2 separate regions of the Homo sapiens genome follow, and region 1 is linked to region 2. A link means that fine-mapping ties the variant in region 2 to the expression of a gene that starts in the linked region. Tissue or cell type: aorta. Region 2 holds a variant in brackets; the other region holds the start of a gene. All regions are shown on one strand. Distances are between the middles of the regions.

The links. PIP is the estimated chance that this variant, and not a neighbour inherited with it, causes the effect.
Region 1: HMGCL starts here. The variant in region 2 is fine-mapped to the expression of HMGCL in aorta (GTEx, PIP 0.99).

The regions. Positions count from the first base shown.
Region 1 is chr1:23,824,357-23,826,977 of GRCh38, forward strand. HMGCL (3-hydroxy-3-methylglutaryl-CoA lyase) reads right to left here and starts at 1,073. Exons shown (of 9, transcript NM_000191.3): 1 at 1,000-1,073. The coding sequence starts at 1,059. It overlaps LOC105376861 (a long non-coding RNA gene), which reads right to left. Exons shown (of 3, transcript XR_947068.2): 2 at 1,728-1,827; 3 at 1,184-1,232. RefSeq lists an enhancer at 1,074-1,942.
Region 2 is chr1:23,705,613-23,708,368 of GRCh38, forward strand. No RefSeq gene overlaps it. Among named protein-coding and RNA genes, the nearest start is that of RPL11, 15 kb to the left of the region's middle. The variant G/A (reference allele first, on the strand shown) is at 1,532.

The DNA of each region.
Region 1 (2,621 bases), 120 kb after region 2:
ATGGAGGGCCATCTCATTACACCAAATATTTCTTAAAAGCTTATTAATATCTACTATTGCGTTTAACTTTCCAAGTTGGAATTGCCATCTTCATTTTACACATGAGCAGGTGGTGCAGGTGAATGGCCAAGTAAAGATATTAACGTGGCTTTCTGAGAGGGACCCAGTGCCAGGAGTGTATTTTTCCCTCTATACAGTTATAACTCCTTCTCAACTCCCTAAGGTAAAAATACCACCACCGACTGATCACTTATTAGGAGCCAGAACACTGCCAGATGTGTTACTTACATTTTCTCTAATTTCCAAAACAACCCCAAGGGAATGTTGTCCGTTTTACAGACGAAAGAGCTGAGGTTTAGAGAAAGTAAATAACTATGTCATTAAGTCTAGAAAGTGGCAGAACTATTGGGACACCCTAGCTTCAGCTTTTATTTTTTCTGCTCCATACAGCTACGTCTCCCACACTTTTTCTGCGCTGAGAATGGGAGAGGGGAAAACATCAGGATCGAACAGGATCAAAGTGCAATTCCAAGGGAATCACAGCTTGGCTCCAATCAACGCAAGTCCCGCTCGGTAGGCTGGGATAGTTCCCCAAGCATCTCTAAAAGCAACAACAGTTGGAAATGGAGACGAAGGAAATGGAAGCGTGTTCTTGATTTTCACTAATGAAGAGTTGGAGAGGTCTGAAGTTCAATTAGAGGGAGAAAGGGGCCAGGGTCATCGGAAAGGGCCCTGGGCGGGGAATCAGGGCACCTAGGATGGCGTCCCAGGTCTCCATGACCCAGACAAGTCACTCCACCTCTCCGGACCTCAGTTTTCCCATCCCCTTCAAAGGATTTGAGGGGAAAAGGGAGGGTCCAGGACTCCAACGCCCTCCCGACTCTGGCCTGAGAGCTGTCCGGCCTCGCCTCTAAGAGAGCAGTCACCACGGGCCAAGCCCCCAACCCTGACAGTCAGAGTGCCTGCAGGGCCGCCGCCTCGGCGGCTCGGGGCACTTACAGCCCGGAGGGACGCCAAGCCCACCAGTCGCCGCGGAAGCGCCTTCCTCATTGCTGCCATCTTGGCCCAGAATCCCCCGCGGCAGTCCAGCTGGGCCCCGCGTGACCGATGGCTCGTCTGGTGGGCGCGGCCCCGCCCCCGCCCCTCCGCCGTGACTTCCGAAGCTGGCTCCACCCCCAGCCTCTCTCCGTTTTGATTCCGAGCGCCTCTTCCATGCCAGGCCAAGTGAGACGCTAGGAATATAAAGATGAACAGAATCAGCCTGGACACCATGTAATCCTAGCACTTTGGGAGACCGAGGCGGGTAGATCACCTGAGGTCAGGAATTCGAGACCAGCCTGGCTAACATGGCGAAACCCCCGTCTCTCCAAAAAATCCAAAAAAAAAAAAAAAAAAAAAAAAAAAAAAAAAAAGCCGGGCGTGGTGGTGGGCGCCTGTAATCCCAGCTACTTGGGAAGCTGAGGCAGGAGAATTGTTTGAACCCGGGAGGCGAGGTTGCAGCGAGCGGAGATCGTGCCACTGCACTCCAGCCTGGGCGACACAGTGAGAGCCTGTCCAAAACAAAAAACCCAAAACCAAACAAACAAAAACATGAAAAGAAATTAACCAAATTCTGTGGCTTCTTGTGTTTAGAGTGTGGGAGGTGTGAGGAGACACATATTAATAGTTACACAAACAGTTGTGTCATTTCTAACTTGCACTATAAGAAGCAACGATTTGCTACTCACTGTTCCGAGTTCTTAGCACGGATTAACTCACGCATCACGATCTTCAGGATTCAAACACAGGCAGGCAGCTCCAGAGAGGGGGCATCCTTAGATTTCATACCTTAAAAAAATGATTAAGATTTATCTAGGTGTACTTTCTGAAGGGCTGAAAAAAAAAAAAATCTATCCAGGTGAAGAGGATACAAGAAAAACTTTCCAGACGGTGTAGCATTCGCAATGGCCCTGAGGCAAAGAAAATGCTGAGAACACTGTTTTTCTCTCTTTTGTTTTGTTGGTTTGTTTTGTTTGTTTGAGATGGAGTCTCACTCTGTCACCCAGGTTGGAGTGCAGTGGCGCGATTTCGGCTCACTGCAACCTCCGCCTCCCGAGTTCAAGAGAGTCTCGTGCCTCAGTCTCCCGAGTAGCTGGGATTACAGGTGTGCACCACCACGCCTGGCTAATTTTAGTGTTTTTAGTAGAAACGAGGTTTCACCGTGTTGGCCAGGCTGGTCTCAAATTCCTGACCTCAGGTGATCCGCCCGCCTTGGCCTCCCAAAATGCTGGGATTACAGGCGAGAGCCACCGCCCCCGGCCAGAGCACTGTTTTCAAACTGTATGTTGTACCCCACTAATTGGTCACAGTATCAATTTAGTGGGTACAAACTTTATTTAAAACAAAGAACTAGAATTTTATCTATCTATCATCTATCTATCTATCTATCTATCTATCTATCTATCTATCCATCTATATTTATTTATTAAGACGAAGTCTCACTGTGTTGCCCAGGCTGGAGTGCGGTGGCGTGATCTCGGCTCACTGCAACCTCTGACCCCGGGGTTCAAGCGATTCTCCTGCCTCAGCCTCCGGAGTAGCTGGGATTACAAGTGCCCATCACCGTGCCCAGATAATGTTTG
Region 2 (2,756 bases):
TTAAAAAATGTGACTGGCTGGGTGTTGTGGCTCATTTGGAAGGATTGCATGAAGCCAGAAGTTTGAGACCAGCCTGGGCAACATAGCAAGACCCCCCATTGCTACATATTTTTTTATCTAAATTAGCCGGCTGGGTGAGGTGGCTCACGCCTGTAATCCCAGCACTTTGGAAGGCTGAGGCAGGTGGGTCACCTGAGGTCAGGAGTTTGAGACCAGCCTGACAAATATGGTGAAACCCCGCCTCTAATGAAAATACAAAAATTAGCGGGGTGTTGGCAGGTGCCCGTAATCCCAGCTGCTTGGGAGGCTGAGACAGGAGAATCGCTTGAACCCGGGAGGCAGAGGTTGCAGTGAGCCGAGATTGTGCCATTGCACTCCAGCCTGGGTAACAGAGTGAGATTCCATTTCAAACAAACAAAAATTAAAAATAGGCCGGGCGTGGTGGCTCACGCCTGTAATCCCAGCACTTTGGGAGGCCGAGGCAGGCAGATCACAAGGTCAAGAGATCAAGACCAACCTGGCGAACATGGTGAAACCCCATCTCTACTAAAAATACAAAAAAATTAGCTAGGCGTGGTGGGCGCCTGTAGTCCCAGCTACTCAGGAGGCTGGGGCAGGAGAATAACTTGAACCCGGGAGGCAGAGGTTGCAGTGAGCCAAGATTGCGCCACTGCACTCCAGCCTGGGTGACAGAGTGAGACTCTGTCTCAAAAAATTAAAAATAAAAATAAAAATTAGCCAGGTGTAGTGGTGCATGTCTTTGGTCCCAGCTACTTGGGAGGCTGAGGCAGGAGGATTGCTTGATCTCAGGAGTTGAAGGCTGCAGTGAGCTGTGATCACACCACTGCACTTCATCCTGGGTAAGAGTGGGACACCTGTGTCTTAAAAAAAATAAAATAAAAAGGCCAGGCACGGTGGCTCACGCCTGTAATCCCAGCACTTTGGGAGGCTGAGGCAGGTGGACTGCTTGAGCTCAGGAGACCAGCTTGGGCAACATCAGTGAAACCCTGTTTCTACCACAAAAATTAGCCAGGCAGAGGCCGGGCATGGTGGCTCATGCCTGTAATCTCAGCACTTTGGGAGGCCGAGACGGGAGGATCATCTGAGGTCGGGAGTTCGAGACCAGCCTGACCAACATGGAGAAACTCCATCTCTACTAAAAAAAAATACAAAATTAGCCGAGCGTGGTGGCACATGCCTGTAATCCCAGCTACTAGGGAGGCTGAGGCAGGAGAATCGCTTGAACCCGGGAGGCGGAGGTTGCGGTGAGCTGAGATTGCGCCATTGCACTCCAGCCTGGGCAACAAGAGCGAAAACTCCATCTCAAAAAAAAAAAAAATTAGCCAGGCATGGTGGCGGGTACCTATAGTCCCAACTACTGCAGGAGAATTGCTTGAACCTGGGAGGCAGAGGTTGCAGTGAGCCAAGATCACACCACTGCACTCCAGCCTGGGAGACAGAGCAAGCAAGCCTTTGTCTCAAAAAAAAAAGAGAAAAAACAAAAAGAAAAATTTTTTAAAAGTGTGTCCAC[G/A]GCCGGGCGCGCTGGCTCATGCCTGTAATCCCAGCACTTTGGGAGGCCGAGGCGGGCAGATCACCAGATCAGGAGATCGAGACCACCCTGGCTAACACGGTGAAACCCCGTCTGTACTAAAAATACAAAAAAAAATTAGCCGGGCGTGGCGGCGGGCGCCTGTAGTCCCAGCTACTCGGGAGGCTGAGGCAGGAGAATGGTGTGAACCTGGGAGGCGGAGCTTGCAGTGAGCCGAGATCGCACCACTGCACTCCAGCCTGGGTGACAGCGCGAGACTCCATCTCAAAAACAAAACAAAAGTGTGTCCACTAAAGTCACTTATCCAGTAACTTTTTTTTGAGCGTCTACCATGTGCTGGGCACTGTTTAAGGGGCATAGGATACATCAGTGAACAAAGACAAAGATCCCTGCCTTGGAGCTTACATTCTAATGGAGGGAGACAGACAATAAGCAATCCACGAGTAAATTACAGAGAATGTTATAGGATGGTATGTGTGTTGGGAAAAGAAAAAGTAGAGTGGGGTGAGGGGGTGAGGAAAGGCTGGTCAGAGGAGGCCTCACTGAGAAGATGAGATTTGAAGTGGGTAAGGGTTGGGCACTTGGATCTGTGAGGAGGAGCTTTTGGAGAGATGGAAGACTAGAGCAAAGGCCTTCAGGCAGAGGTGCGTTATAGCACTGAGCCCACTACAGCCAGGCAGTGTGAGAGGGCAAGAGGAGGAGGGGGTCAGAGATGATGGGCAGCCGCTGTGCAGGCTGTGTAGGGTGTTAGAAAGACTATGGCCTTTACTGGGAGCGAAATGAATCACTCCTTGCTAGGTTGGCAGAGGCATCACATGATCTGACTTCCATTTTAAAACTGTAACTGCATATTAAAAACAGAATATGGGGGGTAAGGGTGGAAGCAGGAAGACTTATCAGAAAGTATTGTCAGCTCAGTGCTCTTGTGCAACTGTAGTCCTATCTGCTTGGGAGGCTGAGGCAGGAAGATGGCTTGAGCCCGGGAGGTTGAGGCCAGGCATTCATGCTGGTCCAGACGTCGTGGCAGCATTGGAGGTGGTGAGACATGGGCAGATGATAGATACATCTTGAAGGTAAACCAGCAAGATTTCCATGGACAACTGGATGAAAGATAAGAGAGAAAGTGAAGTTGAGAATGACTCAAGTTTCTGGCCCCTAGCAAAAGAAGTATGGAGTTGCTGTTAATTTCGATGGAGAAGGTAGCATG